Homo sapiens: one gene and its partners. The protein of the gene in region 2 interacts with the protein of the main gene of each other region in a biochemical or structural test. Each region holds a gene or a part of one and is shown on either strand. Other genes may lie near its edges. The genes, in order: CKAP5, TACC1 and TDRD7.

Region 1 (2,887 bases), on a different chromosome or scaffold from region 2:
TCATCTTTACATTAAAGGAGTCCTTTTTCCCTGGAGTAACCTTTCTACTTTTCTATTTACCATAAGGCAGTGTTTCCTCCCAGTACCTTACCTTTGGGGCCTGTGGAATGCATTTGCATTGATACCAAGTGAAATATTTTAAAGGCCCGCATTGTATCATTGTTCATTCTCAGAAATTTAGGAAGTGTGATGGATTTTTTGTTGTTTTGGTTTTCCTCTCTCCTGCCAGAATATTGATCTTAGTGGTAGGGTTACAGACACTCCAGTTCTATGCCCTCTTTAGATAATTGTTGGACACCTTCTCTTCCCCATGAATACACCATAGCCTTGGACACCTTGCTTCCTTCACAGGTTCAAATGAGTTTCTCCTATGTGACATTGGTCCAAACTTAATCTAATTCTTCCAAACATTTAAGGTCCTCGGGTTTTTCAGTTGGGCAATTACAGTATGCTTAGGAGTAGCTTCAGCTTTTTGGATTGCCCAAGTCAGCCCTGGGATTACTGGAGTACAATCCCCTGCATAACCCAGGATGCAGATGGATGACCCAATTTACATTCTGCCTTTCTATATCAGTTTTTTGCATTCTCAAGAAGCTTATATTGTATATTTCAGAGCACCCTTATCACCAACTCCAGGTAGATTCTTGTGGAATTTGTCGTTTTCAAGTATAGGAAATTCTTAATTGTTCTTTTTGGTGGGAGATTAACCAAGGCACTTTAGAAGGGGGATATGTGGATATCTGAATATTCTTTCTACTTTTTCCCCTCTAGGCATCTCCCCTCAGATGGAAGTCACATGTGTGCCCACGCCCACAAGCACAGTGTCCTCCATAGGTAACACAAATGGGGAAGAAGTGGGGCCATCTGTCTACTTGGAAAGGCTAAAGATCCTCCGACAGCGATGTGGTCTGGACAACACAAAGGTACTGCTCCTTTTCTTCTGTGCAGTTCAGGGAGGGTAGTCACAAGCAGGTCCGAGGCAGGCTGGCCCACAGAGAAGTGGCTTAGTCTTGCTGTAGTTCTGGAGCTGCATCTTGACCTGCTTGACCTGACCTTAGACAATCTCTCTCCTTCTCTCAATAGCAAGATGACCGACCTCCTTTGACCTCTTTGCTCTCCAAACCAGCAGTTCCTACTGTCGCCTCTTCCACAGACATGCTCCACAGCAAACTCTCTCAGCTCCGGGAGTCACGGGAGCAGCACCAGCATTCAGACCTGGATTCTAACCAGACTCACTCTTCAGGAACTGTGACCTCCTCCTCCTCCACAGCTAACATAGACGACTTGAAAAAAAGACTGGAGAGAATAAAGAGCAGTCGCAAATGAAGCTGCCCCACTCCCCCGGCACCCTGCAGCTTTAGTTTACTAAACTAGAAGTCCTCATAGTTTAAAATGGCCTCAGCAGGCCTAGTGTATACAAACTGGTTGTATGTATCATGCCGTGGAGCTAGGGGGAGGAGTCATTGTGGCACAAGTATTTGTACATACTCTGCTTCTCTCTGTCAGCGTCCTGCTGCTCTAGAAGACTGTCCGTGGATGAGTTTAGTGTACAGACTTGTAAACAGCTGCCCCCTCTCTGCTCAGTCTAGTTCCCAGATCCTTTTCTTTTCTTTTTAATTGCTCATTTGTAAAATTGTCCTAATCTTTCCTAGCTTTTTAATAGTTAATATTAGAAACTCTTTAATAGTTTTCCTTTCAGTTTGTGAGCTCTTCTCTGTCGCCCTGAAGGGTCACTGTATTCTGTATGAATGCATGGCATGATACAACTAATTTAAGAGTCTTTTATAAATAAAGTTTGCATTAACTATACCTGACTCCCAAGATGCTCCATATCATGGAGTGTTGGGCAGCAATTTTTTAACTTTTGGTACCAGCTGGGTATTCAGCCAGTTAGAGAAAGGTTAATTACTGCTTACAGAGCTTCCCTTTTTCTTGGCTCACAGACTTGGAGCTGTCTTTTATTCCTTTGGAATGGAAGGAACTCTCCTTCCCTGCTCTCCACAAACAGCTCCTAGGGAGCAGAAAAATCTCATCCTTCCTTGTTTTGAGATTTTGGTCATGATTTCCCTCCAATTATCACCAGTCGTTTCAAGAAGCTCTTGGGCATCCTACCACTTTGCTGACCAAAGGCACACAAGATTGCGCCCAGAGATTGGCTGGGCTTCAGTGGTTCTCACACTACAACTAGATTTGTGTTCATTTGACTAATGGAGTTTGGGAAATCTTAGTGGTTTGCTGCTTGGTTGTATGAGTCTCTTTTGGTCCAGGCTAACAGTTGCTTCACATTCAGTCAGAGTAAGGATGAGAAAGTGAGCTGAGTATTCACCTCTGGAATAAATTCCACAGGACCTCCCTCCACAGTCAGAAAAACTCTTCAGGATGAAAAGGTTCTGGATTCAGGAGGAGATTTTGGGCAGTTATAAAGTTCAAAGGAACTTTCCTATTGTAGCCCACCTTCAATTCAATTGATGTCCAAGAAATGAAAGATTGATGGAAGATTAATCCTGTAAAGGTTCCAGTCATCGTTTTCAGGTGGCCCCGGAGCCTCCTGAAATTAAACTTGTCTCTCCTTTATAGTGGGAACATGGGAGTGGGTATTTGTTCACTGAAGGGATGATGGAGGCGTTTGCTGCTATAGTGGAAAGACATATTTAGAAAGAATGGCTACAAAGGCTGGGCCTGGTGGCTCACTCATACAACCGTAGCATTTTGGGAGGCTAAGGTGGGTGAATCACTTGAGCCCAGGAGTTCAAGACCAACATGGGCAACATGGCTCTACCAAAAAAATACAAAAATTAGCTGGGTATAGTGGCTCAAGCCTGTAGTCCCAGCTACTTGGGAGGCTGAGGTGGGAGGATCACCTGAGCCCAGGAGGTCAAGGCTGCAG
Region 2 (3,754 bases):
TAACAGAGACACTGTGTCAAGAAAAACAAAAATAAAAACTATAGCTATGATATTCCAGTGGTACTTGACTCTGATCCTGGATTAGGATTAGGAAGTAGGATTAGAGGGTCATCTTTTAATTTCCTTTAAAATCATGAGATATTATAACCAATTCACTGAGTTTTTCTGTGCTACTCTTGTTTCAGATATCTACGTTAGGAAATCACTTTTTGCTTTAACGAAATTACCTCATTCACACCTTCCTAATATTTGCAGCACTTATCCTAGTAAGACCACAATTAAAAAGGATTTTTATTTTTCACAAGTGATTTAGAGAATTCCTGGTCCGACTTAGAGACAGAGGTTCTAAAGAAAAAATAACTTTATTGTTTTACAATTTGTGTCTTAGTAAAATAAGGGCTATTTGTTTTAAAGCCATTTCCATATCTGGTTTTTCAAATTAGCTTTCTTATTTGGTTCTTTTAGTTTTTAGGTCTACAGAGAGATGATTCTGAGCTGGTCACAGTAGATTTTTTAAATTTATTTTTGAAACAGTCTTTTTAAATTCTGTTCTGTGGATACATGGCTTTTTTTTTTTCTTCTTTTTTTTTTCTTTGAGACAGAGTCTAGGCTGGAATGCAGTGGCGCAATCTCGGCTCACTGCAGCCTCCATCTCCCGGGTTCAAGTGATTCTCCTGCCTCAGCCTCCTGAGTGACTGGGACTACAGGCGTGTGCCACCATGTCTAGCTAATTTTTGTATTTTTAGTAGAGATGGGGTTTCACCATGTTGGCCAGGATGGTCTCAATCTCTTGACCTCATGATGTGCCCGTCTTGGCCTCCCAAGATACTTATGTTTTTAACATTCAAAGATTCAGATCTGTTCACTGCATAAAGTTCTGACCCTGAAGCTGTCAGGCTGTGCTTAGGAACTGTCTCAGCACCAATCTGCCTCCCTGCACCATAGCTGTTGGTTTCTAAATACTCCTCCAGACCAGTTTTACCCTACAGAATGTTAACATCACATAATAATACATTGCAGCAGACTCTTGCTCTATTTATCCTTTTTCTAAATAGCTCTTTTGGTGTACTTACTATTCGTATCACTTGGATAATGCACATACACAACTTGGGATAGGAAAATTCATTTTAGGGTGTTGTGCCAGCTCTTCTCTTTCAGGCTGTGCTGCCATCCTTCCTGAACTTTAGAGATGCTTAATAAAAGCAAAGAGGGAAGAACTTGCTATTTGTTTATATGAATTCAGGTAAGAGAGGATACTTACCAGTGACAGATAATTCTTTAATAGATGGTTTTTGTGTTTCATTTTAGAATCACAAGAAGCTGATGAACAGCTTGTAGCAGAAGTGGTTGAAAAATGTTCATCTAAGACTTGTTCTAAACCTTCAGAAAATGAAGTGCCACAGCAGGCCATTGACTCTCACTCAGTCAAGAATTTCAGAGAAGAACCTGAACATGATTTTAGCAAAATTTCCATCGTGAGGCCATTTTCAATAGAAACGAAGGATTCCACGGATATCTCGGCAGTCCTCGGAACAAAAGCAGCTCATGGCTGTGTAACTGCAGTCTCAGGCAAGGCTCTGCCTTCCAGCCCGCCAGACGCCCTCCAGGACGAGGCGATGACAGAAGGCAGCATGGGGGTCACCCTCGAGGCCTCCGCAGAAGCTGATCTAAAAGCTGGCAACTCCTGTCCAGAGCTTGTGCCCAGCAGAAGAAGCAAGCTGAGAAAGCCCAAGCCTGTCCCCCTGAGGAAGAAAGCAATTGGAGGAGAGTTCTCAGACACCAACGCTGCTGTGGAGGGCACACCTCTCCCCAAGGCATCCTATCACTTCAGTCCTGAAGAGTTGGATGAGAACACAAGTCCTTTGCTAGGAGATGCCAGGTTCCAGAAGTCTCCCCCTGACCTTAAAGAAACTCCCGGCACTCTCAGTAGTGACACCAACGACTCAGGGGTTGAGCTGGGGGAGGAGTCGAGGAGCTCACCTCTCAAGCTTGAGTTTGATTTCACAGAAGATACAGGAAACATAGAGGCCAGGAAAGCCCTTCCAAGGAAGCTTGGCAGGAAACTGGGTAGCACACTGACTCCCAAGATACAAAAAGATGGCATCAGTAAGTCAGCAGGTTTAGAACAGCCTACAGACCCAGTGGCACGAGACGGGCCTCTCTCCCAAACATCTTCCAAGCCAGATCCTAGTCAGTGGGAAAGCCCCAGCTTCAACCCCTTTGGGAGCCACTCTGTTCTGCAGAACTCCCCACCCCTCTCTTCTGAGGGCTCCTACCACTTTGACCCAGATAACTTTGACGAATCCATGGATCCCTTTAAACCAACTACGACCTTAACAAGCAGTGACTTTTGTTCTCCCACTGGTAATCACGTTAATGAAATCTTAGAATCACCCAAGAAGGCAAAGTCGCGTTTAATAACGTGAGTGACAGTGGGCGCTGGGTGTCGTGCTCTGTGTCTTGTCTGTTGAGTTTGGCAGCCAGCTACTTTTGGCTTTGGTGAACTGAATTTACCTTTGAGGTGCACCGAGGTTCATACAAAGCTTATAATGTTATCCTGCAGTCTTCACTGTTTGGCTTAACTGTTGTGTGGAATCAGAAATACCAGAGGTTTCCTTTTCAGATTGTTGTCTTTTTTCTGAATCCTTAGCTTAATCAGCTAAGCTCTTTTCCCTTGACCCTAGAGACTTTTTTATGTTTAAAAAAAATAGACCAGTCACGGTGGCTCACACCTGTAATCCCAGCACTTTGGGAGGCCGAGGCAGGTGGATCACTTGAGGTCCAGAGTTTGAGACCAGTCTGACCAACATGGTGAAACCTGTCTCTACTAAAAATGCAAAAATTAGCTGGGCGTGGTGGTGCACACCTGTAGTCCCAGCCACCCGGGAGGCTGAGACATGAGAATTGCTTGAACCCAGGAGGCAGAGGTTGCAGTGAGCCGAGATCACGCCGCTGCTCTCCAGCCTGGGTGACAGCAAGACTCCATCTCAAAAAAAAAAAAAGAATGGCATGAGATAGACAGGTAGAGATTTGATGGTTTTCAGAAATCCTGGCTGGACTGTTAGGAGTCGTGTTATAGACAATTCAAATGTCACTGCTGGCCACCGTCTTCATACTCTATGGATAAAACAGAAATTCCAGTCCTGTAACTTACCTCTGTAGCGTCAATAACGTGGGAAATGATCCAAAAGGGTCTTGTAGAAAGAAGACTTTTTACATAAACAGAAAGCTGTGATTTTTGTGGGAAACAAACCTACCACTAAAATTGATGAGAATTCTTGTCTCCATGTGTAATTTCTGGCTCATCAGCCAGGAGGTAAAATTTCAATAAGAATCAAGAATATTTTAAATGATCAGTTAAAACTGAGTAAATTAGTTGGTTTAGTCAATCCCCCATCTCTCCTGGGAAATTATCTGACTTTTGCAAGGTCCTTGGTGTTTTCAGTGTAATTACCTAAGGTCCTATTCCATATCAAGTTTCAGTTTAACTTTGCTACAGGATTACTTTATCACAAAACTTGAGTAGATGATAATACAATCATACATCACTTAGCCACAGGGTAAGCCACAGGGAAATGCATCCTTAGGTGATTTTGTTGTGTGAACATCGTCAAGTGAACTTACTCAAACCTAGGTGGTGAAACCTACTACACACCTAGGCTATATGGTACAGCCTGTTACTCCTAGGCTACAACCCTGTACAGCACATTATTGTACTGAATAGGTGCTAGGTGTGGTGGCTTACACCTGTAAT
Region 3 (3,754 bases), on a different chromosome or scaffold from region 2:
GGGCACAGGAGATGTGAGTGCTAATCCAGCTGGCCCCAGGGGCAATTCCCTATACCCAGAACAGTACTTTGCACGTAACTGATGCTCAATGAATGTCAGCTGAGAGGAAATGCAAAAATATCCACCATGTGCCCATTTATATTATATAGTAAACACAAAGATCTTTGTGTCCCTGCCCTCAAAAAACTAAAATCCAATTATGTAAAACATGGACCGTTTGTTGGGAGGAAGAGAGTGAATACTGCTTGGCAATTATTATGAGGCAAAGGATATACAGTGGTTATCTTGGAAAAGCCTTGCAAAGTAAGCCAGGTACCTCTATTTGACACATAGAAAACCAGGCTAAGAGAAAGCATGTAATTTGTTCAAGATCACACAATTTGTAAAATGAGAAGCCCAGATTTCAATCCAGGTCTGCAAAGTTCACATTATTTGCAGTATGCAACACATTCATACACATCAAGGCAGCCCAGGACGAGACAGGGATTTGGGTCCAAGTTTTACTTCTGCTATTAAGCTGTTGCCTATCTCTCTAGAGAGAACATTTCTCTGCATTTTTTTCACCGGCACGATTGGAGAGCAGAGAGGTGTTGGTAGGAGGGTTAATGAACTAGATCTGTGGTTTTTTGGTTTGGTTTGGTTTGGATGGGCGGTGATCAGAATTCTTCTGGGCCAGGACTTGTTCTAATGTGGTTGTTTCCCTTCCCTGCTCTTAGAAATTATTTGAGAATGGTACCTTTAGCTATTAATGGAAATATACCTCTCAAGTGAATGGGAGCAGAAAGATATGCCGGCTCCAAGCTCCCTCCTAGCAAGCTGAAGCTGAGAGTCTGACCCTGCTGAGGGGATGCTACTGAAAGTTGAGAGACAACTTACTCACGGATCCATGTTTCCCTCCCAGCTGGGTGCTCTGTACCCACTGGGTGCTCCTCGTTTGAGAGAAATGGGGATGTGTGTCCTGCATTACTTAAGCGGCCTGCCTGGGGCTCGTCTCCAGATTATAGAGACCTTCAAGAGAAGTTCGTGGTGTAAAATACTTGGGTTCAAATAGGGGAGCGCGGACATCCCTCGCTGGGGGCGGCGGCTGCGGCCTGTCGCGCCGGTAGCGGGAACCACTTCCTGGTCCGCATCTCCCGCCCGCGTCCACACCCCGCTGCTGCATTTCCCCCACGGCGCAGAGCTTCCGAGGCGGCAGGAGGCTCCGTCCGACTCCCGCGTGAACGCCCGGCCCGGAGCAGGGTCCCTTCAGAGATTTAAAACACAACGCTCTGGAACTCCAACTCCCCCGGCGCCCAGCCCGGTTCCCAGGCGTCGGGGCGGGGGCAATCCCCTGCGGCTGCAGGGAAAAGGCCCCGAGCCTGTTGGAGCCCCCGGCCCTGGCCGCGGTCCCACCGGTGACCCAGGTGCGCCGCGCCCGCCCGAAATCTCGTCCGACGTCGCCCGGCACCTGTCGCGCCCGGAGCCCGCAGGACCTGCACTCACCTCGTTCCGGGGGCCCACGGCCCGTCCCCGCGTCTCTGGGCCCAGCTCCTGCCGCCGTCTCCGCCAGGGGCCCCGCCGCGGCCGCCGCCCACTTTCGGTTTCCCCGCACCACCGGAGCCGCCCCGCGGCTTGGGAATCACCTCAAGCCCCCGCCCCGCCCTGCTCGGCCCCGCCCCGCTTCGCCCCGCCCCGCTTCGAGGGCAGCCTGGCCTCGGCTCTGCGCACGCGCGGGCGCTCCGGCCGCGTCGGCCCACGCCGGCGTCCGCGCGTGGGAAGGGAAACCGTCGCCACCTAGCGGTTTCTGCGCGTGCCCACGCACCGGCCGGCGGCGGAAGACGCCTGCGGGGCGGGTGCGGGAGCGCCTCCTGGTGGACAACGCAGGTACGCGCGGGCCGAGCGAGCCGGGACTCAGCAGGGGGCGAGGGTGGCTCCTTCTATGGGGCTCACCCTCCTTCCAAACAGTTCAACTCCTGCACATTATTTTCTTCAACATCTGGAGCAGTTACTTTTTATTGCCCTAGACACACACTCTGTCCGCCCATATCCTTCAGGCCTTTCTCAAGCATTACCCTTTCAATGACGGTGGACACAGTCTCTAACATGTCAACCTCCTTCCTTGACTTTCCCTATCCCCATTCTCAACCTTATTTCTCCTTAGCACCTATCTAGCACACTATATGTATTTTACTTATGCTTTTATTGTCTGCTATCCTTCTAAAATTAAAGCTCTGTGAGCACAAGGATTTTTGTTTGGTTCCTTAACCTATTCCCAGAGCCTAGGATAGTGCCTAGCACACGATCAGCAATAAATATCTGTCAAATTTATTCATTCACTCTAAAGTTATTGAACACCTAATAAGTGAATACTTATTTATTCTGCACATTAATTCCACCAACACTTATTGGCACCTGCTTTGCATCCCTGCAGCCAACATTGAACACTTCTCTGCACCATTGGATATGCATTTACTGAGAACCTGCTGCTTATTCAACCGGTATTTTATTACAGCTTGACTGCCATGTATAAGACATACAATAAACTGAACGTTTAAAATGTACAGCTTGATAAATTATGCATTTACTGAGAACCTGCTGCTTATTCAACCGGTATTTTATTACAGCTTGACTGCCATGTATAAGACATACAATAAACTGAACGTTTAAAATGTACAGCTTGATAAATTATGCATTTACTGAGAACCTGCTGCTTATTCAACCGGTATTTTATTACAGCTTGACTGCCATGTATAAGACATACAATAAACTGAATGTTTAAAATGTACAGTTTGATAAGTTTTGATATATATATATCACTGTGAGACCATCACTGCAATCAAAATCATGAACATATCCATCACCCAAAAAAGTTTTACTGTGATCCTTTGTAATTCTTATATCTTGTCCCTCCCTGTCACTTGCCCCCTCAACTGCTCACCTGCTTTCTGTTGCTATAGATTATTTTGCTTTTTCTAGAGTTATATGTAAAACTTTTATGTATGGAATCGTATGTACTATCCTTTGGGGGGCTGCCTGGCTTCTTTTATTTAGCAAATTATGTTCATCCATGTTGTTACATGTATCAATAGTTCATGTCTTTCTATTGCTGAATGGTATTGTAGGGATGTACCAAACCTACCACGCAACCCAGCAATTCTGCTCCTGGGTATTTACCCAGGAGAAATGAAAGCAGATGTCCACACAAAAACCTGTACAAGAGTGCTCATGGCAGTTGTGTTGGCCGTAGCCCCACATGGAAAGAATACAAACATCCGTCAGAAGGTGAATGGACAATCAACTAATATATATTGAACACCTGCTGTTAAATAACAAATTTTCATGGATAAGCCTGTGCTTATAGAGCTTTTGATTCAGTGAAAAGATGCAGTAGGCAATACAAAGAAAAATTGGAAGTAAATCTGGAAAACCTGATATCCAGCTCTCAGACACTTGGATGTTTCCCCAAAGGCGGTAGGGAATTGTTCAGAGTTTTTGAACAGGGCTTTTCTTTGAACACTGTTCTCTTTCATATCCTAGATCTGGTCCCTGACTAAGTTTGCCTAAATGTCTCTCTCTGGAATTTCTCTGCATCTCCTTTGCTCTATTTCAGTCTATTTCAGATGTCTTTCTGTTCTTTCCCTTCCAGTCTACTCCAAACATTGCAGTGGATTTTTAATAGACTTTGCTATGGTCTGAATGTTTGTGTCCCTACAAAATTCATGTTGAAACCTAATCCCCATTCTTGCGGTGTTGAGAGGTGGGACCTTTGAGAAGT

Evidence for each region.
Region 1: the proteins of TACC1 (region 2) and CKAP5 form a complex in vitro, tested with the Homo sapiens proteins (one study listed by BioGRID and IntAct).
Region 3: the proteins of TACC1 (region 2) and TDRD7 form a complex in vitro, tested with the Homo sapiens proteins (one study listed by BioGRID).

What each region holds. Positions count from the first base shown.
Region 1 is NC_000011.10:46,742,462-46,745,348, reverse strand, and holds the end of CKAP5 (cytoskeleton-associated protein 5), read left to right. Parts: intron 1-771; coding exon 772-923; intron 924-1,083; coding exon 1,084-1,326; 3' UTR 1,327-2,301; downstream 2,302-2,887. UniProt on the Homo sapiens protein: Binds to the plus end of microtubules and regulates microtubule dynamics and microtubule organization. Acts as a processive microtubule polymerase. Promotes cytoplasmic microtubule nucleation and elongation. Plays a major role in organizing spindle poles.
Region 2 is NC_000008.11:38,818,214-38,821,967, forward strand, and holds part of TACC1 (transforming acidic coiled-coil-containing protein 1), read left to right. Parts: intron 1-1,308; coding exon 1,309-2,422; intron 2,423-3,754. UniProt on the Homo sapiens protein: Involved in transcription regulation induced by nuclear receptors, including in T3 thyroid hormone and all-trans retinoic acid pathways. Might promote the nuclear localization of the receptors.
Region 3 is NC_000009.12:97,409,967-97,413,720, reverse strand, and holds the start of TDRD7 (tudor domain-containing protein 7), read right to left. Parts: upstream 1,626-3,754; 5' UTR 1,483-1,625; intron 961-1,482; exon of another isoform or gene 877-960; intron 1-876. UniProt on the Homo sapiens protein: Component of specific cytoplasmic RNA granules involved in post-transcriptional regulation of specific genes: probably acts by binding to specific mRNAs and regulating their translation.